4 linked regions of the Homo sapiens genome follow. The protein of the gene in region 1 interacts with the protein of each later gene in a pairwise test. Each region holds a gene or a part of one and is shown on either strand. Other genes may lie near its edges. The genes, in order: SLC71A2, ZDHHC24, TMEM229B and LEPROTL1.

The links.
Region 2: the proteins of SLC71A2 (region 1) and ZDHHC24 interact in binary tests that used the Homo sapiens proteins (3 or more experiments, as listed by UniProt).
Region 3: the proteins of SLC71A2 (region 1) and TMEM229B interact in binary tests that used the Homo sapiens proteins (3 or more experiments, as listed by UniProt).
Region 4: the proteins of SLC71A2 (region 1) and LEPROTL1 interact in binary tests that used the Homo sapiens proteins (3 or more experiments, as listed by UniProt).

Annotation. Positions count from the first base shown.
Region 1 is NC_000009.12:94,376,968-94,384,678, forward strand, and holds part of SLC71A2 (hippocampus abundant transcript-like protein 1), read left to right. Parts: intron 1-7,711.
Region 2 is NC_000011.10:66,542,338-66,550,073, reverse strand, and holds the start of ZDHHC24 (probable palmitoyltransferase ZDHHC24), read left to right. Parts: upstream 1-4,025; 5' UTR 4,026-4,070; coding exon 4,071-4,351; intron 4,352-6,092; coding exon 6,093-6,370; intron 6,371-6,941; coding exon of another isoform or gene 6,942-7,066; exon of another isoform or gene 7,067-7,736. Other genes in the region: ACTN3 (alpha-actinin-3), read right to left, coding at 3,288-3,563. UniProt on the Homo sapiens protein: Probable palmitoyltransferase that could catalyze the addition of palmitate onto various protein substrates.
Region 3 is NC_000014.9:67,478,453-67,486,163, reverse strand, and holds part of TMEM229B (transmembrane protein 229B), read left to right. Parts: intron 1-7,711.
Region 4 is NC_000008.11:30,097,707-30,105,417, forward strand, and holds part of LEPROTL1 (leptin receptor overlapping transcript-like 1), read left to right. Parts: intron 1-4,191; coding exon 4,192-4,267; intron 4,268-6,593; coding exon 6,594-6,780; intron 6,781-7,711. UniProt on the Homo sapiens protein: Negatively regulates growth hormone (GH) receptor cell surface expression in liver. May play a role in liver resistance to GH during periods of reduced nutrient availability.

The sequences.
Region 1 (7,711 bases):
AGGTAGATTCCTGCCTGGTCTTTCCTCCTCTCTGAGAACGCATGGAGTTGATGTTAATTGTGATGAATACTGAGTTTTCTTGGTGTTTGCTGTAGATAGTGAGAAGGCTAGCATGAGCAGGTAGCAGTGTTTTTCTGAGTGTGTGGACGTTGGGAGAACAGTGAATGCTTTTAATCATATATGTTTGTGTCATATGCTAGTACCCCTGAATTATGTGTTTTTCCTGTTTGCAGTTTCTAATGTCACCTCCGGGTGCTGTGTCCTATAGCCCCTATATGAATTGATTTCATTTTAATGTGTTGGAATTTCCTTACAGCTTGGTTTCAGTGACACTCATGATTTCAGGTTCTTAGATGCTACTAGTAATCACAGGGAAGATTGTCCAGCTGATAACTTTTTTCTTTTTTGTTTTCTGTGTTTTTTTTTTTGAGATAGGGTCTTGCTGTCATCCAGGCTGCAATGGCCAGTCATGGCTCACTGCAGCCTTAAATTCTTGGGCTCAAGCAGTCCTCTCACCTCAGCCTCCTGAGTAGCTGGGACAACAGATATGTGCCACCATGCCTGGCTTTTTTTTTTTTTTTTTTTTAATTTATTTTTTGTAGAGATGAAGTCTTCCTGTTTCCCAAGCTGGTCTCAAACTCCTGGGCTCAAATGATCCTCCTGTCTCAGCCTCCCAGTGCTGGGATTATAGGTTAGAGCCATGATGCTTGGCCTGACAACTTTTTTCTACCTTATTTGGCAAAGAGATATATTGACCAGAAAAAGATACTGGCAGAGAGATGTCATAATCTGAAAAATAAAAGAGAATCAAGTATTTACTCCAAGAGATCATTTCCTTCTAGAAAAGGGAGGTGTGTCGCCGGGCACGGTGGCTCACACCTGTAATCCCAGCACTTTGGGAGGCTGACGTGGGCGGATCACAAGGTCAAGAGATCAAGACCATCCTGGCCAACATGGTGAAATCCTGTCTCTATAAAAATATAAAAGTTAGCTGGGCATGGTGGCAGGCGCCTGTAGTCCCAGCTACTCAGGAGGCTGAGGCAGGAGAATCGCTTGAACCTGGGAGGCGGAGGTTGCAGTGAGCTGAGATCGTGCCACTGCACTCCAGCCTGGCGACAGACTGCACTCCAGCCTGGCGACAGAGCGAGACTCCATTTCCAAAAAAAAAAAAAGGAGGTGTATGTTAGCTGTTTGCGTTGCTGTAAAGGAATACCTGAGAATACCTGAGACTGGGGAATTTATCAAGAAAAGTGGTTCTTTAGGCTGTACAGGAAGCTTAGCACCAGCATCTGTTTCTGGTGAGGGCCTCAGAAAGCTTGCAATCAGGACAGAAGGCGAAGGGGAAGCAGCTTATCACGTGTTGGGGAGGGAGCAAGAGAGAGAGGGGAGGAGGTGCCAGGCTCCTTTTAGCAATGAGATCTTGGCCGCGTGCGGTGGATCACTTAAGGTCAGCAGTTGGAGACCAGCGTGGCCAACATAGTGAAACCCCATCTCTACTAAAAATACAAAAATTAGCCGGGTGTGATGGTGCATACCTGTAGTCCTAGCTACCTGGGAGGCTGAGACAGGAGAATTGTTTGAAACTGGGAGGCGCCACTGCACTCCACCCTGGGTGACAGAGTGAGACTCTGTCTCAAAAACAAACAATAAACAAAACCAATCAGATCTTGTGGTAACTAATGGAGCGAGGACTCACTCATTACTGTGAGAAGGACACCAAACAATTGAGAAGAGATCAGCCCCCATGACCCAAACAGCTGCCACTAGACCCCACCTCCAACACTGGGGGTCACATTTCAACATGAGATTTGGAGGAGACAGATATCCAAATGCTATCTGCCTTAAAAACAAATTGGATAGTTTGGTTTTCTATTCTGTGGAAGAATTTGTGTAAGATTGGTAATACAGTTCTAGAACTTTATAGTTCTTGGCCTTTTGGAGATTAATTCTAGAACAGCGTAGGTTTTCTGTTTGATTTTTAGTTCTGTCAGTTTCAGTAAGTTGTGTTTTGTTGGGAATTTGCCCATTTTATCTAAAATGTCAAATTAGTTGGCATAAAGCTGTGAATAATGACCTCGTAGGCTCTTTTCACCTTCTGTAGGGATTCTTGGTGTGCATTTCCTTTTTTTTTTTTTTGAGACGGAGTTTCACTGTTGTTGCCCAGGCTGGAGTGCAATGGTGTGATCTTGGCTCACTACAGCCTCTGCCTGCCGGGTTCAAGCGATTCTCCTGCCTCAGCCTCCCATGTAGCTGGGATTACAGGCTTGTGCCACCATGCCCGGATAATTTTGTATTTTTAGTAGAGATGGGGTTGCACCATGTTGGCCAGGCTGGTCTTGAACTCCTGACCTCAGGCGATCCACCTGCCTTGGCCTCCCAAAGTGCTGGAATTACAGGCGTGAGCCACTGCGCCTGGCCCTTTTTTTTTTTTTTTTTAAGAGGTGAGGCCTCACTCTGTCATCCAGGCTGGAGTGCGGTGGCGCACAATCATAGCTTGCTGTAACCTTAAACTCCTGGGTTCAAATGATCCTCCTGCCTCAGCCTCCCTAGTAGCAAGGACTATAGGCACGTGGCACTATGCCTGGCTAGTTTTTAAATTTTTTTGTAGAGATTGGGTCTCACTGTGTTGTCCAGGCTTGTCTTGAACTCCTGGCCTCAAGTAATCCTCCAGCCTCAGCCTCTCAGAGTGCTGGGATTATAGGCATGAGCCACCATGCCTGGCTGGTACTCTGCATTGATAACTTGTGCTTTGTCTTTCAAAAAATATTTAATTTTGTAGGATCTTCTGGATAAATATTCACAAATATTGCACGTGTTGATAATTTTATATCTTATTTTGATGTTAAATGAACTAGAATATCCAGGAAAGTATTCAATGGTAATGGTAAAAGTGCATACAACCTCCTCTACGTAACAGGAATACATTAATTTTTTCTTACTGTTAGGTATCCTTTTGGCTGTATACACGTAAACATGCTTTATTACCCTATGGAAGCATTTTTGAAATTTCTCAGTTTCAGCTGGACGCGGTGGCTTACGCCTATAATCCCAGCACTTTTGGAGGCTGAGGCAGGCGGATCACGAGGTCAGGAGATTGAGACCATCCTGGCTGACGCGGTGAAACCCTGTCTCTACTAAAAATACAAAAAATTAGCCAGGCGTGGTGGTGGGCGCCTGTAGTCCCAGCTACTTGGGAGGCTGAGGCAGGAGAATGGCGTGAATCTGGGAGGTGGACCACGCTTGCAGTGAGCAGAGATCGTGCCACTGCACTCCAGCCTGGGCGACAGAGCGAGACTCTTTCTCAAAAAAAAAAAAGAAATTTCTCAGTTTCTTACATGTGTTCTCTCTTCCCCTTTTCCTCTTCCCTTCCTCCAGTTCAGCATGTCATAGAACTTTCACAAGTGGTTATGAAATCTTAGATATGCTATGGAGAAAGAGGTTATGGCATAGCAAGAGCATTGTTCTGTGAGAATTGGAGAGAAATCTATTCTTAATGTGTATTTATTTATTTATTTTTGAGACAAGAGTCTTACTGTTTCATCCAGGCTGGAGTGCAGTGGTGTGATTATGGCTCAGTGCACCCGGGAACTCCAGGGCTCAAGTGATCTTCCTGCCTCAGCCTCCTGGTAGCTGGGACTACACGTACGTCCCATCATGCCTGGCTAATTTTTAAATTTTTATTTGTAGAGATGTGCTCTTGCTTTGTTGTCCAGGCTGGTCTCGAACTCCTGGCTTCAAAGAATCCTCCTGCCTTGGCCTCCCAAAGCATTGGGATTGCAGGTGTGAGCCACTGTGCCCAGCATTAGTCTGACTTTTTTATAGTTAGCTTTGTATTTGCTTGTCTTTTTTAAACAACCTTATTCAGTTTAATTGACATAAAATAAACTGTGTGTTTGGAGTGCACAGTTTTGTGTTGTGACATATCTATACACCTGTGAAACCATTATCATAATCAAGATAGTAAACATATTCATCACCCTCAAATGTTTCTTTTTACCTCCCTCTACACCTCCATTTCCAGGCGATAATTTATCTACTCTGTCACTATATATTGGCTTGAATTTTCTTCCCCCTTTTTTTTTTTTTGAGATGGAGTTTCACTCTTGTTGCCCAGGCTGGAGTGCAATGGCGTGATAACGGCTCACCACAATCTCCGCCTCCTGGGTTCAAGTGATTCTCCTGCCTCAGCCTCCCAAGTAGTTGGGATTACAGGCATGCGCCACCATGCCAGGCTAATTTTGTATTTTTAGTAGAGACGGGGTTTCTCCATGTTGGTCAGGCTGGTCTCAAACTCCCGACCTCAGACCATCCGCCCGCCTCGGCCTCCCAAAGTGCTGGGATTACAGGCGTGAGCTACTGCCCCCAGCTGGTTTGAATTTTCTAGCTTTTTTTTTTTTTTGTTATTTTATAAATACAGCATATTCTCCTCTTTGGCTTTTAAAAAGTTCAGCATAAATTATTTTGAGATTTATCAGTGTTATGTAAATCGGTAGTTCATTCTTTTTAATTACTGAGTAGTAGTCCATTTGTGGATGAACCACGATTTGTACATTCCCTTGTTGATGGACTTTCGGCTTCTCACCAGTTTTTGGCTATTACAAATAAAGCTGCTGTGAACATCTGTGTGCCAATCTTTGTACAGAATACACTTTTTTAAAAGTAAATAGGAGTGAAATGGCTGGGTCATATGGTAGATGTATTTAACTTTTTAAGAAACTGTTGGCTGGGCATGGTGGCTCATGCGTGTAATCCCAGCACTTTGGGAGGCCGAGGCAGGAGGATTGCCTGAGCCCAGGGATTTGAGACCAGCCTGGGCAACATGGTAAGACTCCGTCTTTAAAAAAATAATAAAATAAAATAAATTGCCAAACTAATTATTTTAAAAGTAATTGTACAGTTGTACATTGCAGCTAGCACTGTATGATAATTCTAGTTCATCCATATCCTTACCAACACCTGGCCAATTTTAGCCCTTCCAATTGGTCTTTAGTGATGTCTCATTGTTCTTTTAATTTGTGCTTCCCTATGGCTAGTGGCATTCAGTATCTTTCCATAAGTTTTTTTTTTTTTCCTCCTCCGGCAGAGTCTCACTTTGGTTGCCCAGGCTGGAGTGCGGTGGCGTGATCTTGGCTCATTGCAGCCTTGACCTCCTGGGCGCAGGTAATTCTCCCACCTCAGCCTCTCGAGTAACTGGGACTACAGGCATATGCCACCATACCCAGCTAATTTTTTAATTTTTTATAGAGATGGGGTCTTACTATGTTGCCCAGACTGGTCTTGAACTCCTGGATTCAAGTCGTCCACCTGCCTCAGCCTCGCAAAGTGCTGGGATTACAGGTGTGAGCCATGTGCCCAACTTCCCTAAACTTATATGTCTTCTGTATATCCCTTTTGGCAAAGTGTCTGTTCTTGTCTTTTGCCTATTTTTTGTTGTTGTTGTTGGTTGGTTGTTTTCTTGTAATTGAGTTTTGAGAATTCGTTACATATTTGGGATGCAAGTCCCTCGTCAAATGATTTGCAAATACATTCTCTCTAGGCCGTGGTCCATCTTTTCATTCTCTCAGCAGTGTCTTGAAGAACAGGAATTTTAAATTTTGATGAAATTTATCAATTTGCTCTTTTATAGATCAGGGTTTTGGTTTCATATTTAAGAAATTGTTGCCTAATCCCAAATCATAGGAATTTCCTTCTATTTTTTCTTTTTTTTTTAGACGGAGTCTCTTTCTTTGTCGCCCAGGCTGGAGTGTAGTGGCACAATCTCTGCCCACTGCAATCTCCAGCTCACTGCAATCTCTGCCTCCCGGGTTCCAGCGATTCTCCTGCCTCAGCCTCCCGAGTAGCTGGGACTACAGGCATCCGCCACCACGCCTGGCTAATTTTTTGTATTTTTAGTAGAGTTGCAGTTTTAGTAGAGGCGGGGTTTCACCGCGCTAGCCAGGATGGTCTCAATCTCCTGACCTCGTGATCCACCTGCCTCGGCCTCCCAAAGTCTGGGATTACAGGCGTGAGTCATTGTGCTTGGCCTTCCTTCTATGTTTATGGAAGCTTTATAGTTTTAGATTTTACAATTGGGTTTGTGTTTAATTTTGATTACATTTTTATATGGTGCAAAATAAGGATGGAAATTATTTGTTTATGAACAGTTGTTCATTTGCTGAAAAATATGTTTTTATTCATTGAATAGCTTTTACATCTTTTTTTTTTTTTTTTTTTGAGATGGCGTCTTGTCCCATCGCCCATGCTAGAGTGCAGTGGCGCAATCTCGGCTCACTGCAACCTCCACTTCCCAGGTTCAAGCGATTCTCCTGCCTCAGCCTCCTGAGTAGCTGGGATTACAGGCGCACGCCACCACACCTGGCTAATTTTTGTATTTTTAATAGAGACAGGGTTTTACCATGTTGGCCAGGCTGGTCTCGAACTCCTGACCTCGTTATCCACCCATCTTGGCCTCCCAGAGTGCTGGGATTATGGGTGTGAGCCACCATGCCTGGTCTACTTTTGCATCTTTGTCAAAAATCAATTGTCCATATATTAGTCAGTCTCTGAACTCTTTATTCTGTTCCTTTGATCTATTTGTCTTTACATCAGTACCCTGCAGTCTTGATTACTGGAGGTTCATAAGACTTGAAAACTAACAGTCCCCCAATCTTGTTATTTTTTAAAGTCGTTTTAGTGATTCTGGGTCTTTGCATTTTAGAATTAGCCTGGCAATTTCCACAAGAAAGCCTTTTGGGATTGTTATTGGTATTCTTTTGCCGTGAAGATCTGTTTGGAAAGAATTGATCAAGTCTTCTGATGCATGAATGTAGTATCTCTCCATTTATTTTAGATCTGTAATTTCTTTCAGCTGAGTTTTGTAGTTTTCAGTTGACATGTCTTTCCCATCTTTTGTCAGATTATTCCGTTTCATATTTCTTGACGTTATTGTAAATGGTATCATTACATAAATGTAATTTTTTAAAATTTAAATTCACAATTGTTTGTTGCCAGCATATAGAAATACGGTTGATTTTTAAAAAATTGTTTAATTGTGGTAAAATACACATAGCAAAGAAGTTACCATCTTAACCATTCTTAAGTGTAGACTTCAGTAGTGTAAGTATATTCACATTGTTCTGCAGCCAATTTCCAGAACTACTTCTTCTTTCAAAACAAATTCTATACCCATGAAACAACAACTCCATTTTTTGCCATCCTCCCATTCCCTGACAACCACCATTCTCCTTTGTTTCTATGTGTTTGACTTACTTTAGATACCTCATATATATGGAATCATACCATATTCATCCTTATCTTTTTGTGATTGACTTATTTCATCTTGCATAATGTCCTCAAGGTTTGTCCATGTGTGCCGTGTGTCAAATTTTCCTTTTTTTTTTTTTTTTTGGACACATGGTCTCTCTCTCTGTTGCTCAGGCTGGAGTGCAGTGGCATGATCACGGCTCAGTGGAGCCTCGACCTCCCCAGGCTCAGGCGATCCTCCCACCTCAGCCTCCCAAGTAGCTGAGAGTACAGGCGCGCACGAGCAGGCCCAGCTAATTTTTGTATTTTTTGTAGAGTTGCAGTTTTGTCATGTTACCCAGGGTGGTCTCAAACTCCTGGGCTCAAGTGATACACCCGCCTTGGCCTCCCAAAGTGCGGGGATTACAGGCATGAGCCTCCATTCCTGGCCTCTTTGCCCATTTTTAAATTGGGTCATTTGCGTTTTGTT
Region 2 (7,736 bases), on another chromosome or scaffold:
AGGTGGCCCTGGGAGCCATTTGGAATTCTTCCCCTCAGCCACCTTTCCTTCCTCAGACCAGCTTGCCAGATGCCCTGGGAGCTGGACATGGAAGATGATGCGTTAAATACTTGAGGGGCTGTCATTGCTAAGGAAAGGGAGTGAGCTTCCCATCACTGGAGGTATGTAAGTAGACACTGAGTACAACTTGATGGGAACCTAAGCACTGAATAGGGCAGTTAGATTTCCCACAGTTCCCTCCAACCCTGGAGTCTAAGATGCTTTGAGTTTGGAAAGGGCAGGGGGATAGGCAGGTCTGGGTGGTGCCAAACATGACTCTTTTTTTTTTTTTTTTTTTTTTTGGAGACAGAGTTTCGCGCTTGTTGCCCAGACTGGAGTGCAATGGTGCGATCTCTACTCACTGCAACCTCTGCCTCCCTGGTTCAAGCGATTCTCCTGCCTCAGCCTCCCAAGTAGCTGGGATTACAGGCATGCGTCGCCACGCCCTGCTAATTTTGTATTTTTAGTAGAGATGGGGTTTCTCCATATTGGTCAGGCTGATCTTGAATTTACAACCTCAGGTGATCCGCCCCCCTCCGTCTCCCAAAGTGCTGGGATTACAGGCATGAGCCACCACTCCCAGCCCAAACAAGACTCTTAATGAGATGTGGTTCCTGCCCTAAGGGAGCTCACAGTCCATCCAAGAGTCATTTTGGTCTGAGAAGCGCTGTAAGAGGTTGCCGAGGAATTTATGGGAGGGACGCTGCGGATCAGGGTCCCCTCTTGGGGAAGGCGAGTATTTGATCAGAGCTGTGATGGGCAGGAATTATTCAGGAAGGGAAGGGCAGGCAAGGGCATTTCAGGCAGGGGCTGCCATGCAGGCAAGTGCTCGGTGGCTGTGAGAAACACTTGCTACATTTGTCAGACTACAAGGATCTGGGCACTGCTGGAATGGAGCTGGGATTGTTGGGGTATAAGTGGTGAGAGGCAGGCCGGAGGGGCAGCAGGAGCCAGGTCATGTGTGATCTTGGGTGCTAAGCTGGGGAGTTAAAATTTGATCCGGAGGGCAACAGAGAGTCAGGGAAGCCTCAGGCAGGAGGGAGGTGGGCAGAACTGTCCATGCTGGTTGCAGAGTGGAGATGAATGGCTTGGCGTGGCAGAAGGCAGAAGTGAGGACGCAGTCACTGGGATCAGGGCAAGAGAGGAAGGGTGTCAGTGTGGGGGACAAGGCAGGATTGGATGGATGAGACAGAAATGTTGGAATGTAAGCTCCCATGGCAGGGGCTTTATTTTGTCTGCTGCCGAATTCCAGCACCTGAAACAGCGCTGGCACATGGTAAGACATCAGGTGGGAGGAGGCAGCGTGCTGCTCCAAGACTGTGTGAAGGAAGCCCTTGGATGGAGGAGTCACTGGGGAGAAAGGGAGCATAGAGCAACAGGGAGGGGTCAGGGCTAAAGCTGAGCACAAGGATGTTTATTACCACCTTGCAATAAACAACGCTGGACAAGAAAGAAATGAGCCAAATGTCCAACTACAAGGGATGCTGATTGATTTTCAGATCCTCTATGCTGTGCCAGCCATTGAATGAGTAGATGATGAGATGGTGACTGCAAGTTGGGATGAACAGATGTTCCTGATAATTTGTTAGGTGACAAAGGCAAGTTACAGACTGGCACGTGTCATATGGGGGGCACGCAGACCTGGATCTCGGAGAGGCCCGGGTGGGTGGGGGTAGGGATAGGAGATGTTGCAGAACAGGTGGCAGCTGGAGCCAAGGACAGGGATGACACCACCGGGAAATTGCCAAACCTGGGACTGCAGCCGTGCTTGGAGACAGGTGCAGGGGGAGCCTAAGGGGAGGCCTGTCACCCGGGGCACCCCAGCCGAGTCAGCGGAGCCTCTCGGCCCTTGGGGTCATCTCCTGTCATCTAACCCAGCAGAAGTACTCTGATTCTAAATTCTGGGACTCTCAGGTCATTTAAATTCCACTGAGTACCCCAGTACCCTGCCCTCTCCTGGAGTCATACAGTGTTGGCACACGCTGAGCAGGGTCCAATGGCCTCATAGTGCCCTCCTGGTTACCCCTGGCCTGCCACTCTCCAAAGTATTCTCCCTCTGGCCTGGATCATTTTCCCTTTGGGAACCCAGGTGTCCTGCCCCCTCTACTTGGGAAAGTCTGGGAGTGAAAATAGCTCAGGGAGGGAGGGGCCCTGAGTGCCCAACGGGCTGGGCCTGGGTAGCAGCTGCCCCTGTGCCCCTCTTTGGCGCCCCCGAGGTGCTGCCTCAGCACTAAGTGTCCATCTGGCTGGAGAGTCAGGTTACAGCGTAAGGGGACCCAGGTCTCCCCTCCTCCCCGACCTATGGCCTTTTCAGCAGACTCAGGGCCCCATGCCTGGGGTATCTTGGGAAAGAATGGGGGTAGGGAAAAGGGTAAAGATCCTCAGGTTGCGGGGGTCCTGATGTCTGACAGTCTGTGATGTGGGGCCTGTCTGTGCTCTTTCTGGGCTTCAGTTTCTTCAATTGTTAAATGAGATACAGCGACTATGGACCCCACCCTGGAGACGAGGTGGGGTGGGGTCTGAGAGGACCCTTCTCACTACCCCCACACTCCCAAGTCCACTAGTTGCCTGACTGCAAGCCTTCAGGGTGGGGTCTGGGAATATTTAACTAGAAGAAGATTCTTCTTTCTGAACCCCCCCTAACTTGGATCTCCTGGGGTTTGCCCAGCCTGTTTTCAGCAGCAGAAGTGGGGCAGTGGGCCCAGGGGAATGAACCCTGGTGGGGGTGGGGAGCCCAGAAACTCTCTTGTCATTTTAAACCCCTCTTGAGGGCTCCCAGCCCTCTCCTCCAGCCCTGGGGACAGCAGGCAGCTGATGGGCAGAGCCTGGGCTGGGGATTAGCACTCTAGGTTAAAGACAAGCTCTGCCCCTGCACTGCTGAGATGCCCAGGACAAACAGCCCGGCCTCTCAGGCCTCGGTTTTGCTGTCAGGAAATGGGCGAGCACTCACTTTCCGCTGCTGCTTCTCCCAGGCCGGGTCCAGCAGCAGGTCGCGGTCCCAGTCCTCCTCCTGTTCCATGTACTCGCCGCCCCCGCCGCCGCCCGCAAAGCGCCCCTCCCCGGCCCCCAGACCCTCGGGCTGCATAACCATCATCATCTCGATCGGGCTCCTGGCTTCGCTCCGCTCGGCACGCTCTCGGACACCCGGGCCCCATTAAGTAGGGCCCAGCCCAGCCCCAGATCGAATTCGCACTAAATATGGGGGAGGAGGGAGGGGCCGGATGGGGGTGAAGGAGCTCGGGTTGGACCTGGCAAGGGGTTGTCCTGAAGCCGGGAACTGCGGGACTCGGGGGCGCCGGGGTGGATCTCGCGGCGGAGATCCTGGGTTTGCATTCCTGCTCCGCTGCTGGGGCGCTGTGTGACCTTGAGAAATCCACGGGACCTCTCTGAGTCTGTTTACTCCTCTCCACAATAGAAAGGCCGATAATAATAGTGGCCGCGGGCCGCTCTAGAGGCTGCCCTCTGGAGCTCCTCGTGAGCCTCTTCCAGCACCTCGCTGGTGGGACACAGAGCCCTATCCCCATTTCACAGTCAGGAACACAGAGGCGCCGAGCTGTTTTGCATGTTTTCTGGGGTGATGGAGACACCCGGGCATGGGGAACGGCTCTGAGCCAGCTGGATGGGCTGCGGCAGGGCTATTAATATCGGGGCGGCTGTGGGGAGTAGGGGAGAATGTGCTGAGCCGGGAAACCCCGACACCACCCCGGCTGCAACTCAATCCCCCGGGCACTCCTGGCCCCCGCGCCAGCGGGCGGGGCTCCGACGGGATGGGAGGAGCCTCCAGGGTGGGCGGGTCAATCACTCCGCGGCGTTATCCGGGCTCCAGCGCCGCGGGATTCCGAGCGCCTCCACTGCTGGTCCGTTGGCCAGATCAACTCGCCGCGTGGGCCGGCCGTTCCCTGAGAGTCTGAGCGCTCGCCGCACCCCCTTCCGAGCTTCTATTGGCCGTAGCAGACGTCCGTCTGCCGCTATCTCCGCCCCAATACGGAAGCGGCCTAGTCCTCCGGCTCCGACAGCTGGGTGTCCAGGCCATGGGGCAGCCCTGGGCGGCTGGGAGCACGGACGGGGCGCCCGCGCAGCTGCCTCTCGTGCTCACCGCGCTGTGGGCCGCGGCCGTGGGCCTGGAGCTGGCTTACGTGCTGGTGCTCGGTCCCGGGCCGCCGCCGCTGGGACCCCTGGCCCGGGCCTTGCAGCTGGCGCTGGCCGCCTTCCAGCTGCTCAACCTGCTGGGCAACGTGGGGCTCTTCCTGCGCTCGGATCCCAGCATCCGTGGCGTGATGCTGGCCGGCCGCGGTCTGGGCCAGGGCTGGGCGTGAGTGGGGTGCGGGATCGGGCGGGGAGAAGTGGGAGCCTTGGACAGGGGGGAGGGGCCCCAAGACCTGAGATGTTAGAACCGGGTTACATTAGGATCCAGGTTGTTAGAATCAGACATTTTTTTAGAACCTGGGATGGAAGAGCTAGAATTGAGTGTTATTTATTTACTCGCAAATACTTATTGGGAGCCTACTAGGTGCAAGGTTTTGTTACAGGGACGAAGGGTACAATAGAACAAATTCCTGATTTGAGGGGGGTGCAGATGAGAAACTAGAGGAATAATAAGCAAATCATATAGAATGCTAGAAGGTGATAGTAGTTTGGAAACAAGAAGTAGAGCAGGGTAAAGGGGTTGCAAGTTTCAATATTAAATAGGTGGTTAGGCCGGGTGCGTTGGCTCACATCTGTAATCCCAGCACTTTGGGAGGCCGAGGCCGGCGGATCACTTAAGGTCAGAAGTTTACCAGCCTAGCCAACGTGGTGAAACCCCGTCTCTACTAAAAATATAAAAAAATTAGTCGGGCATGGCGGCACGTGCCTGTAATCTCAGCTACTGGGGAGGCTGAGGCAAGAGAATTGTTTGAACCTGGGAGGCGGAGGTTGCAGTGAGCCGAGATCGAGCCACTGCACTCCAGCCTGGGTGACAGAGCAAGACTCCCTCCGTCTCAAATAAATAAATACATAAATAAACAGGTGGTAAATTCTCATCACAAAAATATGAGTGTTTGAGGTAATGGCTATCCTAATTAGCTTGATTTATTCCAAGCTGTACTGATAAATCATAACATCACTTGGTATCCCATAAGTATATACAACTGGAATTTGTCAATTTATAATTAGAAAAAAAAATTACACCAGGTACAGGCTCTACACACACATTTTATGCCAGGCAGAGGCTTTTGCTGAGACTGAGGCTGTAGTGTGCTATGATCACACCTGTGAACAACCACTACACTCCAGCCTGGGTAATGTAGCGAGACTCTGTCCCTAAAAATTTTTTTTAATTAATTTTTAAAATAATATACATAAATGTGTGGTCAAGGTAGACCTCATAGAGAAGGAGGCATTTGAGCAAAAAACTTGGAGGGCGTGGGGGGCGGTTAGCCATGTGGGAATCTGAGGGAAAGGTGTTCCAGGCAGAGGTAACAAGTGGTGCAAAGGCTCTGAGGCAGTTGTGTACCCAGCATGTATGTTCCCAGAACAGCAAGAAGGCCAGTGTGGCTGGAGTGCAGTAAGAGAGGGGAAGAGATGTCACAGATAGAAGGATGTTGTAGGACACTGAAGGCTTTGCTTTTTACTAGAAATAAATTGGAGAACCACAGGAGGGTTTTAAGCAGAGGAGGGTCAGTTTGGTTGCTGGGGTGAGACCGTACGAGGTGGGGCAAAGGTGGAATCGGAGACCAGTCAAGAGGCTATTGCAGTAATCCAGAGAGTTCCTAGTGACCTGGACAAAGGGGTGACCGTGGAGGAAGGGAGGGATTTGCTGCTGGATGTCAGTGGCTTGAGAGAGGTCTCAGGACTGGGGATGTTAGGGCTGGAAGAGACCTCAGACCTGTAGTGCTAGAACTAGAAGGGCCTGGGACATCTTGTTTAGCCTGCATTTACTTGTAAAGAAATTGAGGCTTAGCCAGGGCAAATGGCTGTTGCCACTTCCGCAGGATGGGCTCTGGGGCAGCCCTGTGCACAATATGGGGCATCTGAGCTGCTGGGGGAACTGACGCTGTGGTTCCTTCCTGCAGTTACTGCTACCAATGCCAAAGCCAGGTGCCGCCACGCAGCGGACACTGCTCTGCCTGCCGCGTCTGCATCCTGCGTCGGGACCACCACTGCCGCCTGCTGGGCCGCTGCGTGGGCTTCGGCAACTACCGGCCCTTCCTGTGCCTGCTGCTTCATGCCGCCGGCGTCCTGCTCCACGTCTCTGTGCTGCTGGGCCCTGCACTGTCGGCCCTGCTGCGAGCCCACACGCCCCTCCACATGGCTGCCCTCCTCCTGCTTCCCTGGCTCATGTTGCTCACAGGTGGGGAGCCTGGGAGGCCTCTGCACAGAGGCAGGGGCCCTGGTATTGGGCTGGGGAGTACAGCCCATTCTGGTGGGAGACGGGCTTTCTGGCCTGGGGGACCCAGCCCCAGTGTCAGTGATGGCCAGTAAGGGCAGCTTGGTATTCACCCGGGGGTGCAGTATGGAAACTGGTGTGTTGAGACAAGTGCAGCGTTCTGGCTGGAGAATTGGGAGATTCCTGGAGTTGTTGAGAGAGGAGAAAGACTCGTGGGAGTCTCTGCATGGCGGGATGTGGAAGTGCATTCTAGGAGCATTTCTAAGTGAGAGAAGCAATAGGAACAAAGGCTTGGAGAGTGGGCAGGGAATTGTGAGAATTAAGGCCAGATTGGTAGGGGAGGCCTGGCTGGTGGGGTCCTGAGAACTGGTGTGAGGAGATGGCTCCTATTTGACTGGACAGTGGGGAGCCAGTGAAAGTGACAGGCAGGAGAAGGCCCAGTTATGGGAAGCTGGGGAGGGCAGACTTGGATCAGCAGGCTGCCTGAGATGCCATGTTCTAGACGACACATATGTTCCTCTTCCCCCATCTACAGATAGAAGCCTCGCTGGTCCTTTTTACTCTTTGTTCTCTACCCCCAGAATGCTTTGGCCTTTCTCGCCCCCATTCCTTCCTCCTGACCTTTCCATGGTTCCCTCTGTCACTTTGATCTGTGGTTGAGGAACCTCCCCGGCTACTCCGGGTAGTCACTGTGCCTCCTCATCCTATCCAAGCCCAGCTCTGTGCATGGACCCCACCTACAGCCCAGGGGAGGCCTCGGGAAGCGGCCCACTGGGGTTATCAGAATCTTCATCTGCCCACACCAGCTTCCCAATGGGTCCTCCTCTGCCTCCCTCCAGGAGTCCCGGCCCTTCAGCCGCACTGCCCTACCACCTTGTGGTCAACACTCACTCCCCTCAGTCACGGAAGACTCTGGCTCCAGTCACAGACTCTCTCTTCGCCCTGGGCCCTGTGGAAATCAAGGGTGTCTGGAAGTTTGCATGAACAGCCCCCTCAATGCCTGGATGGCTTAGCTCTTGGCCTCCTCCTTCATTTTTCCTTCCTTTCCCTCCTCCCATGTCCACACCCCAGTCCTGGTCAGAATCCAAAAATGAGTCACCCTCACAAACCACCCATCTTCCTCTTTCTGCTGCCCACCTCCTCTTCTCTCCGTCTTTTACTCCTCCACGCCCTGGCACCTGCTCCATGAGCCTGCAGGCTCGTGGCCCTCACCGCCCGTCTGTACCTTTCCACCTTCGCCACCGACGTCCAGCTCAGAGCTCATCCTTCTCACCATTCTCCTGCCAGCATCGCAAACTTCCTCCCTCATCTTCCTTCCACAGTGCTTTCC
Region 3 (7,711 bases), on another chromosome or scaffold:
TCAAGATGAGATTTGGGTGAGGACACAGCCAAACCATATCATTCAGATTGTCTGGCGTGAGTGAAGCGAGCACTCACACCTGGGAAACAGCATCTACTTTGGCCGTCAGGCTTCAGATCTGTGCAGTGAGGACCATGCATCACCTGGGACTGGACTCTGCCCAGAAGCCATGAGCAATGCATGTGCTGCTGGTCTAGGAGGCCTGGAGTAGGGCATCCAGGGCCCTGGGAGGTGGGGGGATTTGTGAGCCTTAGCTGCCATAAGAGTGACCACCAGGGGATCTGGAGGAGCATGTCCTCTTGCTTTTGTCACATATCAGCAGCAGCATCTCCTCCTCAGCGAGACAAGCTCGAGGTAGGGTGAGAGGCTCCTAACTGCACAGCCCTGCCTGTCCTCACAGGCCTTTCTTTCCAGCCTCAGCCCCTGGCTTTTCCTTGATGATGCCTTAAAAAATGACAATTGGCTGCTTTCCCAACCCCCAGAGGCCTGTCTGGCCTGAAGGCTGTTATGTCTGTGCAGGGCCCGTAGCCTGGTGGGATCAGAGGCCTGCAGGAAGGAAGCTCCCCAGAAGGCATGGCAGGCAGAGCTGGGCTTTTGCAATCTTGAACAGACAAGCTTTTTTTGGAGTTCCTAGGCTGGTCCATGGGAACCCAGAGCTTCAGATTCCATGCAGGAATTTGCAGGGAGTAGAAAAGGGGTAATCAGGTCTTTTTCCACTTTAGGTAGATCTTGACTCTCCTAGTTGACAGTTTATAATTCAGGGCCAGAATCTGTTTTCCACTCAGCCTGGGCTTACAAAGTCAGTTTGACTGGAGAGTTTCTCAGGAAGTGTGTTCTTGAGTTGATTTGTAGCCAGGGTGGTGTGAGCAAGCCTAGACTGTAGGAGGGGAGTTGGGGGTAAAGAGATGGCCATGGGTGCCTCTGTGGGAACGTCGTTCCTCAGATGGGAGGCACATCTCCCCAGAGCAATTTATGCCATCAGCCTTAAGGCTGTTGTACCGTTTGGTTCAGTGATTCTCCTTCTGGAATTATCCATTAAGATATATTATTAGGAAATAGTACCAGAGAAGAAAAGGGCTGAATTCTTCCATTACAGGCATTAAAGGTAATTCTCGTTATATCATCTGTAGTAGTAGAAATGGGAAACAACTGTTCCCTTTGGACATCTAGGTTAAGTAAATTACAGTTTTCCGCTTGCTGGAATATTACACAGCCATTATAATAATGAGCACAGAGGCTATATAACAACTTGGAAAAACAGTTATGACAAGTAAAAATGGCAGGTTGCAGAATAAGTATATTATGGTGACTTGTAAAATACACACATAGGAAAATATTGCAAAGGAGAAATGGTAATCGCTGTTAGTTCAGAATTATGAGTGCTTTTTCTTTTTTTTTCTTTATTAGAAATGAGGTCTCACTATGTTGCCCAGGCTGGTCTCAAACTCCTGGGCTCAAGCAGTCCTCCCGCCTCAGCCTCCCAAAATGCTGGGATTACAGGTGTGAGCCCCCATGCCCGGCCTATGAATGCTTCTTCTATGATGCATGGATTGGCTTTTTAAAAAATAAAATTGAATCCGGATGACTACACAACATACCATTAATAGTGACTTTCTCTAAGATGTGTGATTACAGGGAACTTTTGCTTTCTATGTCATTCTGTAATGTTTAAATTTCAGCTGTGAGCACATGTTGCTTTTATAATTAGAAAAAAAATTAAATGCTAGAATTAAATGTTTTAGAAGGCTATATTTCTCAAGAAAGGAGGGAAGAGAGACCGAGGCAGCTAGCTGTTTATACCTGCCCTCATCAGTGTTTAAGGGCCTGGGCCTGTTTGGGCCCACTCATCCATCCATTCATTCCACAAGTATTACTAGGTATTATTGCCAGGCACCACTCTAGGCACTGACTAAACAGCAGTGAACAAGACAGTGCCCCTGCTCTCATGAAGTTTTCATTCTAGTTGAGGAGAGACAGACCATAAATAAGTAGCAACATATCAGAAAGTGAAAGTGCTATGTAGAAAATAAAATGGAATGATGTGAGTGACAGAGAGGCTATTTTGGACTGGGGATCAAAAGTCCCTGAGATATGACAGCTCAGCTGAGATCTGAATGGTAACAGCAAGGCAGCCACATACAGGTCTGGGATGCCAGCCTGCCAGTCCCCCGTGCAGGGCATCCTTCGCTTTCTGAGCCCCAGGGACCTCTGTGCCAGAACTGACTCCATCCCCCAAGCCCACTCACCCTGCCCTGCCTCCTGCTGCGGTTTGCTTGGGATCTGAGGCCCCCTGAAATCCTCTGTGTTCGGACCGCTCCTCCTGACATGCTGGCTGTTGCTCCTCTGGGCAGCTGGCCCCTGCTCTTGGCTGGTGTCTCCATGGCAGGGCTGGGCCGGGCCATCTGAGACTCCCAGGAGCACTGGTGTGGGCTGGCAGTCAGGGGGCCTCTGGGTTGTGTGTGTCCTGGTGAGGGGCCTTTGAATGGCGCATGCCTTGGGGCCTGAGGGTTGGTTGCTGTCATGGTCCTGTGACTGTCAGCTTTGACCCTGGAGGGCCTCTGTGTGGATCCCGAGGAACAGGCTGGGAGCCTTTAGGAACTCTGACACCCAGTTGGGAAGTTTGTTAATGAACCACCTAGAAGTTCACAACCTTCTCCTTGCTTCCTGTTGTCTCTCCACATACCATCCCAGCCTTCCAGAAGCAGGAACTCAGAAAATGGTAGTGCCCTCAGAGGAGCCTGCAGTCAGCCTCGGGGGCAGTGCAGTGTGCTGATTAGGAGCAAAGACTCTGGAACCAGATTTGTGGGGTTTGAATCCCAGCCTTGCCTTTTATAGTTATTAGAATGTAGGCTCGGCCAGGTGTGGTGACTCGTGCCTATAATCCCAGCACTTTGGGAGGCCGAGGCAGGCAGATCACTTGAGGTCAGGAGTTCAAGACCAGCCTGGCCAACATGGTGAAACCTCGTCTTTACTAAAAATACAAAAATTAGCTGGGTGTGGTGGCAGGAACCTATAATCCCAGCCTCTTGGGAGGCTGAGGCATGAGAATTGCTTGAACCCGGGCGACAGAGGTTGCAGTGAGCCAAGTTCACACCACTGCACTACAGCCTGGGTGACAAAGTGAGACTCCATCTAAAAAAACAAAAAACAAACAAAAAAAGAACGTAGCCTCTTTCTGCCTCACTTTCCCCATCTGTAAAATGGGCTTGAGAATTTTTTGAGTTAATACATGGAAATACTGAGAAGAGCACCTGGTTATTATTATTACTGTGACTTGGGAGGTGGAGGGAGGACTTCATCAAGGCCTGCAGTATCACTAATCCCAGGGGCTTTCCTTGGGGGGCACCCACAGCAAGAGGGTGGAAGTCTGCAGCATGTGCACCAGCCAGTGGCTACAGGAGTTTCCCTCCACTTGCTTCCCTTCTGGCCCTGGGCAAGCCCTATTTTCCTCCCTGCTAACTTGATGACAACAGGGGAAGTTCAGGGAGGTTTCTGCCCTTTCCTCATTGAAGCCACTTATCTTCAGCACAGAGCCGCCCAAGGGCTCCTGAAGCTGTCCCCCGCTGCGTTGCCTCAGGGGTCTCCTAGAAGGGCTGTGGGTCTCCCCAGAACATGGAACTGTAGTGATGGGGGTGGCTGGGGATGGGGAGTGAAGCTTGGGAAGTGAGTGGAGTGAAAGCGGAAGGCCTTCCCAGCCCGGTTGCATGGGAGGGGAATCCCAATTTTCTGGCCAGATGCTTCTCTGGACAAAAATTCCCAGAGTCACTGTGTTGTGGCACCTTAGCCCCCTGAAACAAGATGGGAGTTTTTGACAAAACCAAGGGCAGTTATTCCATCTGGTTTTGCCTTCAGCCTGTCTTAGACTTTTATGGCAGCCTCTTTACCCCTCTCAACTGCTGGCCATGTCCCCTGCCACCCTGTGGAACAGCAGGCTCGGAGAGCAGCCGGTGAGATGCTCTTAGTGAACAGGGCTCTGAAAGCCAGATCCCCTTCCCCTTCCCCATCACCTGTTCCCTTGAAGGGGTAGTTCCTAGACCTCACAAGTCACCTTGAGTCCTGGCCCTTCGATGGGACTCTGTTTGCCCAGGCCCTTTCATCAGGTATGAGGACTCTCGGATTTGAATGTTGTTCAATGAAACCCTGCTTGTGAAGCTATCCTTTGCTCTCCAAACTCTGTCCTCCTGCATTCAACCTTGCTCACACTCTCCTCCTCTTCAATCCACCCTGAATTTCTGTTCCTGGGCTGTCCTATCTTCATGTCACAGGTCTCAGGACAGTTTTGTTTGTCACCAGGAGAAAGAAGCCAAGGTCCCCTGAGCTGCCGGTTCTCCCTGCAGCAGGCTTTCCCAGGGCTCTGATCCCAGGGCTGAGCAAGGAGCTAGTGGAAGGAGCCTAAGGATATAGGGAGTCGGGTGGGTGGAGGCCGGGGCAGGGAATAGAGGCCTGTCAGGCCCTGTATGGGGTGGGCGAGCCTGTCCTAGCTCAAAGTTAAGCACAGCTCCTGTGCTGATTAGAAATGGGTTTGGAGAGTGGGGTTCTGAAAACGCATCCAAGTCAATGCCCAGCCTCTAATATTATCATCTTCCCCACCACACTGGGAGCTGCCACCTCAGCCAATGACACTGTCTCCTATTCCTTTCTCTTCAACCCCATCTTCTGCCCTGACTCAGGTCTTTCATTTCCCCTGTTGGTCTTGCATGGACCAGCTATGTTCTCCTAGTTCTGCCCTCGGACACTGTCTGACATTGCCGTGGTGTGCTTCCCCTCCATCTACTACCCATGGCTTCCTGCTGCCCAGAAACAGAATCTGGGCTTGGGGCACACCATATTTCTCTCTCCCCCATCTCGCTTTTTTGTTTTTCTTTCTTTCTTTCTTTTTTAAGAGACAGGGTCTTGCTCATTGTCCATGCTGGAGTGCAGTGGCACAATCATAGCTCACTGTAGCCTCAAACTCTTGAACTCAAGGGATCCTCCTGCCTTAGCGTCTGGGACTACAGGCACACCACATCAAACCAGCCTACTTTTTTTTCTTTTTGTAGAGATGGTGGTCTCGCTATGTTGCCCAGGCTGGTCTCGAACTCCTGGCCTCAAGCTATTCTCCCACCTCAGCCTCCAAAAGTGCTGGGACTGCAGGCATGAACTCCATCCTCTCTTCTGTTCAGCAACTTCCTGTCTCTCACCCTAGGTTTCTCTCTCCCTTTGACAGCTACCCCTTTCTTCTTGCTTCTGCTCCAAGGGTTTTGGGATCTGACTCTCCCAAGTTACTTGCTGGGGTTGGGGAAGAGACTGGACCCTCCCGTCTGTTACCAGCTGGGAAACCGGTCTGGGCCATCCCAGAGAGATCAGAGGCAAGAAGAGCAGGGTTTAAAGTCAGCTTCAAGGCTGGGGTCTGGCCTGAGTAATGAGATCCACACAGTCATGTCAGGCTGCTGCAGGAGAGCCCCTGTGAGGTTCCTGTTCCCTCAGCCCGGGCCCTGGGGGTTGGAAGAGCCAGGGGGATACGTGCAGGTCATGGGGCCTGAGTTGGGGTAGGAGGTCCAGAGGTCTCCACATCCCTGTGCTGTGCCATCTGTCTCAGGCCCTCAGACCGCCTCAGTGTGTTCCCCTGGAGCCTGGATCTGTTCTCTCCTGCCCGGGGGTAGGAGGTTAAATGAGGGGGTGAGAGGCTGTGCCCCTTTCATTCCACCATCTTTTCAAGTCTGCCCCTCGGGCTGGCTCTGACACCCTTCCTCTTCCATTCATCCCTCGGTAGCCACAGGGAAGCTGGAGGCTCACCTTCAGTCTCCCGGGATGTCTGTGGGAGTTTTGTTCTCCTGAGGGCCATATGTGGGGTTATTATTGCCACCCGATTTCTTGGCTCGCTAGCTTGGTGCTCAGGGTTGTGATGAAGACCTAACCTGCTTGACAGGAAGGGCTGCCTGGAGGCTGCCGAGAGCAGGGGCACAGTGACCCTGCATCGGGTAAGAGGCGGTGTAAAAGCAGGAGGGGCTGTCCAGAGGTCTGGCTCTGTGCCAGAAATGACAGCTGCCCTTTCTGGAGCCTTAGCTGTATTTTAAGTAGTGTATATGTACGAGTTCATTCGTCCTCACAACAGCCTTCTGTGGTCATTACTTCCGTTATCCTCACTTTACCTACAAGGACCCTGAGGCACAGGGTGGTTGGGCAGCGTCCATTAGGTCTCACAGGTGGAAAGCATCAGCCAGGATTCCAACCCAGGCAGTTAGGATCATCTGGGGTCCCTGAACTTAACCAGCTGGCCATATTGAGACCTGTGAGGCATGGTTTGTTGTTGGATGACACAGGAGGGAAGAGCCTGCAATAATTTTACATGACTTCAGGTTTCTTTGGGTTCATTTGCTTAGCAAATTCATTGAACACCTTCTATACACGAGGTATGAATACGGTGAATACATATTCATTCCACAAGCATTTTTTTTTCCTTTTTTGAGACGGAGTCTCACTCTGTCACCTAGGCTAGAGTGCAGTGGCGCTATCTCGGCTCACGGCAACCTCCGCCTCCCAGGTTCAAGCGATTCTCCTGCCTCAGCCTCCCGAGTAGCTGGGATTACAGGTGCATGCCACCATGCCCGGCTAATTTTTGTATTTTTAGTAGGGATGTGGTTTCACCATGTTGGCCAGGCTGGTCTCGAACTCCTGACCTCAGGTGATCTACCCACCTCGGCCTCCCAAAGTACTGGGATTACAGGCATGAGCTACTGCACCCAGCTTCCACAAGCATTTTTTTTTTTTTTTGAGACAGAGTCTTGCTCTGTAGCCCAGGCTGGAGTGCAGTGGTACGATCTCGCTCACTGCTACCTCCACCTCCTGGGTCCCGGTTCAAGCAATTCTTCTGCCTCAGCCTCCCGAGTAGCTGGGATTACAGGCACACGCCACCACGCCCAGCTAATTTTTGTACTTTTAGTAGAGACAGGGTTTCACCATGTTGGCCAGGCTGGTCTTGAACTCCTGACCTCATGATCCACCCACCTCAGCCTCCCAAAGTGCTGGGTTTACAGGGTGAGCCACCACGTCCAGCCTCCATAAGCATTTTTAAGATGAAATTTTAGTTTTATAAAAGTTATACATGCTTGTTAGGAAAAAAAAGTATGCAGAAAAATATAAAGAAAAAAAGCACATATGATATCACCATCCAGAGATGATTGTTGTTTAATTTTTTTGTATATGTGCACATATGCATGCCTTTGCAGAATCGGAGTTAGGTTGAATATTCAGTTTTGAATCCTGCTTTTTTCTCTTACCACTATCTTAAACAAGCATTCCTCAGGAGGCTGCTGGTGCTGGCGTTCAGATGAATCCAGTGAAGCAGAGTGCTCACTATTACCACAGAGAAGGGAGGGTGCAGAAGTGGGAAGACAACTCTGGAGTCAGGGTGCTTAGGAAAGTCCTCACAGAGGAGGAGCTGGGTCTTAAAGGAGGGTTCACCGGCCCTGGGTGGGGCCCAGGTAGCAAAAACAGCAAGGTAGAGATCTGGAGGACAGGATTGGAGGCAGGGACGAGTTGTGAAGGGCTTTGCCAGCCGTCCCCAGGGGTTTGAGCTTTATTTACTCTGTAGATGTTGAAGATCCACTCATGGGCTTCAAGTGGTGAGAAACATCGGATTTGCATTTTAGAAAGGTTGCGTTTTTTCTACACACTCTTTCATCCTGTGATGAGTGAATTAGAAGGAAGAAGGCAAAGCTGGGAGACCTTT
Region 4 (7,711 bases), on another chromosome or scaffold:
ACACACACACACACACACACATATTTAGTATTTAATGGAGTAGAAGTATTATCTCAAGGTATCTTGATTCCCCCAAACAAATGTTATTCCAGTATTCATATTCATAGCACTTACAATAAGACAATCTTGGTTTATGTTTTTAAAATTGTTTTTTGATACCTGAGCCTTATCTCATTTTAGTCCCTTGGTTTTTTTTTTTTTTTAAGGAATCATTTTTCATTAACTTTGTAAGAGTGTAATCAAAGAATTTAGGCCTTCTTTTTTGATAAAAACTTGAATGACTGTTCTCTGTCACAGAACAGCCACCTTCAGAGGCCCTCATGGTCCTAAGGTGGCTTGCCTCTTGCGGAGATTACCGTGAACATGCTTTTTGAGATTTTTCTGCCTGGTTTAAATTTTTTTTGTTGTTTCCTCCCTCCTGTCAAAGGGCAATTCTTGCTTGTATGCAACTCTTTCTCCTAATTCCCATTTGTTTCAGTGTGGGAAGATAAACTTAGAAAATTTTGTGTCACAAGGTATATAGGTAATAGTGATTACTTTTGATAAGAGAAAGTTCCTTTTCACTTAATTTTTGTTCTGGGTATATGAATTACCTATTGAAAAATATATATAAGTGAGCATAGATGATTCTTTAAAATAAAAATGTGTTTTACTCTGAATTCCCATCTAACAATTGTGTCACGAAAATGAGTTAGTATAAATAAGAACTTAAGGGTCTGTTTATAGAGAATGTTGGCTTTAGTATATGGGCTTTGTAACATCTATTTTGTCTCTTTTTAGTGGCCTTTGTTTTCTCCAGGATTCTAAGTTGCGTATAAATGGCTTCTGAATGAATGAGGTGTTACTAGGTAGTATTTATAGTAATGGACTTAGCTGTCTTAACAGTACCTTTAGTGTTCAGAAAATTATCTGCATTTAAGATCTAGTCCAACTGTCATTTTAGAGAAGGAAGAACTGAGACTCATAAATTACTTGGACAACTAGTTAGTAACTATTAGGGCCTTGGACCCTCCAGAGTCTCAGTTCCATGCTGCTTCCACTCTGCTACATTCATTCCACAAATATTTGTTGAGTGTTAAGAGCCAGGCACGATCATCACAACAGAAAAACTTGCTCCCTCCTTTCGTGAAATGGACAGTTGAGAAGGAAAGACAAAATACAAACCAGTAGGAAATCGCAGCTGATAATTGAGCAAAGGAGAGGCATTCAGTGAACAGAGGACCTCAGCATACACGGGTCTCTGCCAGGAATACTCATCCCAAATACCCACATGATTTCCTCCCTCCCCTCATACAGATCTTTGCTCAGGTGGTGCTTCATCAGAGATGCCTTCCCTGGCCACTGTATCTAGACTAGCACTCCCATCCCTTACTCTACCTGACGTTTGTCATCACTTGACATTTATTCACTTGCTTATTAAAAATCATTTTCTTCTCCCACTAGAACGTGAGAGCAAAAGCTTTGATTGTTGTCATTGCTCTGTCTCCAGTAGCAAGAACAGTATCTGACACACGTTAGGTGCTCCATAGATGTTTGTTAGAGGAATGAATAAATAAATATAACAGGGAATTGGTCTAATCAGGAGGTTTGGAAAAACTTCACTGAGGCCAGGTGCAGTGGCTCACGCCTATAATCCCAGCACTTTGGGAGGCCAAGGTGGGCAGATCGTGAGGTCAAGAGATGGAGACCATCCTGGCCAATGTGGTGAAACCCCGTCTCTACTAAAAATACAAAAAAAAAAAAAATTAGCTAGGCATGGTGGTGCACAGCTGTAGTCCCAGCTACTCAGAAAGGCTGAGGCAGGAGGATGGCTTGAACCTGGGAGGCGGAGGTTGCAGTGAGTCAAGATCGCGCCACTGCACTCCATCCTGGCGACAGCGCAAGACTCCATTTAAAAAAAAAAAAAAAAAAAAAAAAAACCAGCAAAAAAACACTTCACTGGTTGAGCTGAGATCTGAAGGAAAAGCAGGAGTTAAGTTGGAGGAAAGTAGAGAGGAGTGGGAAAGGACCATGCCTCATTCACTGTTGTATCCCTAGTGCTTGTCACATATTTAGTGCTCAGTGAATATTTCTTGAATGAAAAAATGTCTGAGGCAGAAGGGACAAAGTGTGCACAGGCCACGTGAGTGAGCAAGTCTGCTGATTTCCAGGAAAGGAAAGAGGGCCAGTATAACTGAAGTGAGGGTTCAGGGACACTGTAGTAGCCTGGTGTGACACGTCACAGGAGAGGTGGGCAGGGCCCGGTCATGAGAACCAATTTGGAACTGAAGAAAACAAATGGTAAATTCAGTGTTTTCCTTACAGTTTATATTGCATTCCCCTGTAAACTTGAAGTGCCTCGTTTGCTGTAAAGTAAAAATGCAATTCTTTTCCTGTAGCTGGAAATAGAATGGTATTCAGGACTAAGTGATGTGTTCGGGGTTGCCATGACCTGCATCAGCGATCTAACCAAAAACCAAATCTGCCAAGCCACTATGTCATGGGGTGTCCTTGATTATGACTGTTTTAGTTGTGCAGAGTATATCAGTAGTACTTGGCAAAGTTTAACTTGTTTCCTGTTCATTTTGGTTTCTCTATGTTAGCCTTTGTTTTGGTAACTTTTAGACCTTCTACAAATCTTTCGAATTTTAACTTTTGAATTTTAATAAAATGACCTAACAACAACAAAACTAGTTATTTTCTTAGCCACTGTAACTGTAGAAATACAGGTTATATAGAACTCAAAATAAATTTATCATTTACTTATTTATTTATTTTTTTTGAGATGGAGTCTTGCTCTGTCGCACAGGCTGGAATGCAAAGGCGCAGTCTAGGCTCACTGCAACCTACGCCTCCCGGGTTCAAGCAATTCTCCTGCCTCAGCCTCCCAAGTAGCTGGGACTACAGGCATGTGCCACCACACCCAGCTAATTTTTTGTATTCTTAGTAGAGACAAGGTTTCACCATACTGACCAGGCTGGTCTCAAACCCCCAACCTCATGATCCGCCCGCCTTGGCCTCCCAAAGTGCTGGGATTACAGGCGTGAGCCACTGCACTCGGCTATCATTTATTTCTTTGCTTTAGTCTAGGTCATTGGTTAACTATGCCTATTCAAGAAAGTTGTTTCTATTCACTAACGTGAGAGCACCTTAAAATGTACTGCTGTGTGTGTGTGTGTGTGTCTGTGTGTGCGCGCGTAGCTTTAGAAACTATATTTCACCTGTAGAATGCATCTATTGCTTATAATAACATGTTAAAGTAGTGATACCTCAGAAGGATTATAACCCATTGTCCTACAGATTTTCTAATGTAGATTAGGGAAGGAAACCCAGCTCTACTTTTGCAAACTATTTAAAGATTTGCAACAAAATTAATTGATTAAAATCATTAACTACAGATATTCTCGGGCATTTTTTCTGGTCAGTTTTATGCACATTGAGAGTGTATGTGCCAGAAACAGGAGCTGATTAGAAGAGGTTTTCCTATAGGATGAGGTTTCTAAAGTCCAGTAAACTTGAGCATGTGGAGTTTCTCCACATACTGCTTTTCAAAACTGTAGTGATCTGTGAAGTAAATATAATTCTAATGCCCAGAAGAGCATTGAGCCTGTGGACTTTGACTCTTTAGAAAGGGAACCAGCGTCTGGGGAATATGGTGGGGTACTAGCAGTAGGTTAGAGCTTTAAAAATCGGTGTCACTGGCTGGATGTGGTGGCTCACGCCTGTAATCCCAGCACTTTGGGAGGCCAAGGCAGGTGGATCACCTGAGGTCGGGAGTTCGAGACCAGCCTGACCAACATGGAGAAACTCCATCTCTACTGAAAATAGAAAATTAACAGGATGTGGTAGTGCATTCCTGTAATCCCAGCTTACTCAGGAGGCTGAGGCAGGAGAATCACTTGAACCTGGGAGGTGGAGGTTGTGGTGAGCCGAGATCAAGCCATTGGACTCCAGCCTGGGCAACAAGAGTGAAACTCCATCTCACAAAAAAAAAAAAAAAAAAAAAAAAGGCCAGTGTCACTTCATTTTGCCTTGAAGATACCACAGAAGACTTATTCTAAGACTAGATAACTTACACTTCTGATGGCAACTTGCTATTAATACGTTTTAGGGATTTTTGCTTCTGAGGTTACAGATAATGTTCAGACTGCTGATATTAATAAAAATAATATTTAATTTATATTCCTGTTGCACTTTTTATTTGCTTTGCAGCTTTGATTAGTTTGTCCTTTGGAGGAGCAATCGGACTGATGTTTTTGATGCTTGGATGTGCCCTTCCAATATACAAGTATGTAAAATGTTTGTCTTTCTGAATATTTAAGGGTAAAATTTTTCTACTTTTAAAGCTTAAAAAAATGTTTTTTTACTACTGTAAAAGTAATGCAGAGAAATGTTCACTTACCAAACACATACCTTTGTAAAAATCACCACTTAAAGTTTGTTTCTAAAGATTTTAGGACACCAAGATGCAAATAATATTTTTGGCTGTTACCTGCTCTTTCACTACTGCTGAGTCTGCAGTGGCAAGATAGCTACACAGTACCTCAGCCCTCCTGCTCAGTTTTTAACATCTATTGATAATACTAATTACAAGAAAATTTAAAATGTCTTTTTGCAAAAAAATACCATAAGCAGTCAAAACACAATTAAAAAAAAAGAGAGAGATGTAAACAATTACTTTCCGGCCGGGTGCGGTGGCTCACACCTGTAATCCCAGCATTTTGGGAGACCAAGGCGGGAGGATTGCCTGAGGTCAGGAGTTCAAGACCAGCCTGGCTAACATGGTGAAACCCCATCTCTACTAAAAATACAAAAAAATAGCCAGGCGTGGTGACACATGCCTGTAGTCCCAGGTACTCGGGAGGCTGAGGCAGGAGAATCGCCTGAACCCAGGAGATGGAGGTTGCGGTGAGCCAAGATCACGCCACTGCACTCCAGCCTGGGTGATAGAGCAAGACTCTGTTTCCAAAAAAAAAAAAAAAATTTCTTTCCTTAGGATAGAAAGAACTTCTCAAAGTTAACATTTTAACATTTAGATAAATTAGAAAAAGATGGACAACTCAATAGAAAAATAAATACAAAAAGAGAACTACAAATTGCTAATAAGCACATAAAAATATCCCCAGCCTCACTCAAAACTAAACAAAATCTATTGACAAAGACAAGAGACAGGGCAAGCAGGGACTCTTTTGTGCTGTGGGGGGAGTACACATAGATAGTTTTCTTGGAGATAAGTTTGCTTGTAGCTCTCAAAGTATATATTCTTTGAGTTAGCCCTTTCACTTGTTAGACTTTCTGATACAAACCCACTTGCAGATGTTTACAAAGATATATTTAGTGGGGGAGAGTATGGATGTTCAAGCAGCCTTGTTTATTTTTTGGTTTTTGTTTTTGTTTTGTTGTTTTATGCGTTATTTATAAGAGCCAAAAAAAATTCTGAAAACATCCTAAATGTCCTTCAAAAGAAAAATGGTTAAATTATAGTAAATCTTTTAATGGAAATACTAGGCAGTCTTAAAAAGAATGAGGAAGAGCTGTAAGTGCTAACATGTAAATATGTTCAAGACATATTGTTAGAAAACTGCAGGGACCCATTCATATTTTAAAGTTTATGTGGAAATGTGGAAGGGTCCCTGAGAAGCTCAATAGGAAAGTGGGCAAGAGGAGATTTGGAACTTTTAGTCTTTACTTTTTGTGCTTTTGTACTGTTTGAATTATTTTTCTTAAGCATATATTCAATTTTTAATTTTTTTTCTTAAAATATTTAGGAAATGGTCAGGCGCAGTGGCTCATGCCTGTAATCCTAGCACTTTGGGAGGCCAAGGTGGGTGGATCACCTGAGGTCAGGAGTTTAAGACCAGCTTAGCCAACATGGTGAAACTCCATCTCCACTAAAAATACAAAAATTAGCCGGGCATGGTGGTGCACGCCTGTAATCCCAGCTAGTCACGGGGGCTGAGGCAGGAGAGTCACTTGAACCCAGGAGGCAGAAGTTGCAGTGAGCCGAGATCATGCCACTGCACTCCAGCCTGGGCAGCAGAGCGAGACTCTGTCTCAAAAAAAAAAAAAAAAAATTTAGGAAACATAAGTAGCTGCTTATCATTAGCCTCTGTACAATCAGATCTCCACCATGATACCTATTTTATTCTATGGTAGTTTTAAGGGCATCTATTTCTTTTTAACTTTTTATTTTGAAACAATTTTAGATTCTGAAGAAGTTGTGAAAATCATACACAGAGGTCCCCTGTACCCTCCACACAGCCTGCCAGAGTCATAAGATCTTACATAACCATAGTTATCAAAACCAGGAAATGACTGTGGTACAATACAGTTAACTAGATGTAGAGTAAAAGCCATCTATTTTTATTGTGATAAATTCTATATTCTGACTGAAAGTGTTCTTACTTTTAGCTTCTTTTCTGTATTTTGATTTCTGTAATTTGGGAGTTCCTCGTGTTGTAAGGGAAGTTTAGGGTTGTTTCAGCTTTATGCTAAGGTTGGGTATCATCCATTAGAAGTCAAGCGATTGAATCTTGATTTTTTAAAAAGACCATATTTTGTGTGTAGGAAAATGACATAGCAAAAATTACATTAACTTATTTTTCTTTTTCTAGCAAATACTGGCCCCTCTTTGTTCTATTTTTTTACATCCTTTCACCTATTCCATACTGCATAGCAAGAAGATTAGTGGATGATACAGATGCTATGAGTAACGCTTGTAAGGAACTTGCCATCTTTCTTACAACGGGCATTGTCGTGTCAGCTTTTGGACTCCCTATTGTATTTGCCAGAGCACATCTGGTAAGTGAATATATTCTTCCATTAATGATTTTATATTGAACATGTGTTACATTTTTCTCAAGCAAAGTTTTTGTTAATGACATGAAAAGAGGTGAAAGACATAAGAGCCTAGAAGATAGAGATTAAAATCTCACTTTATTGTTTGTTCTTGTTAACTAATAAAAGTGATATTGGAGAACGTGGCTTGGATCTGCAGCAGCTGTTGGCTTGCTAATACTTTTTTTTTTCTTTTTTTTTTTTTTTTGAGATGGAGTCTTGCTCTGTCGCCCAGCCTGGAGTGCAGTGGCGTGATCTCACCTCACTGCAAGCTCTGCCTCCCGGGTTCACGCCATTCTCCTGCCTCAGCCTCCCGAGTAGCTGGGACTACAGGTGCCCGCCACCACGCCCAGCTGATATTTTTTGTGTTTTTAGTGGAGACGAGGTTTCACCGTGTTAGCCAGAATGGTCTCGACCTCCTGACCTCGTGATCCGTCCGCCTCGGCCTCCCAAAGTGCTGGGATTACAGGCATGAGCCACCGCACCCGTCTGGCTTGCTAATACTTAACTGTCAGAGTTGAGCATATCAACTCCCCCAGTGCTGAACAACCCAGGCCTATCCTGTAAAACCTAAAATATGGAAGACCTGAGAAGGTGCATGTGCTCTGCAGGCAGAAAAGCACTGAAGAGGGGAAGGGGCTGGCTACGGGTACTCAGTTCTTCCTCCCAAACTCACTGATCCACGCGCCTTCATCTCTGGGGAGGTAGAGAAGACAGCCATATGGAGAAGGCAATTGTTTTCCCACCCCTTCAAAAGAATGTACATGGGTGTGTTTCCATCTGTGATATGCTAAAATTTAATCTACTCTAGATAGATTTTTATATTAAGGAAGAGTAAGCACATTCCTTTATAAACAGAAACTTGTAGAATTTTATGCTGCTTCTTCATAGCCCA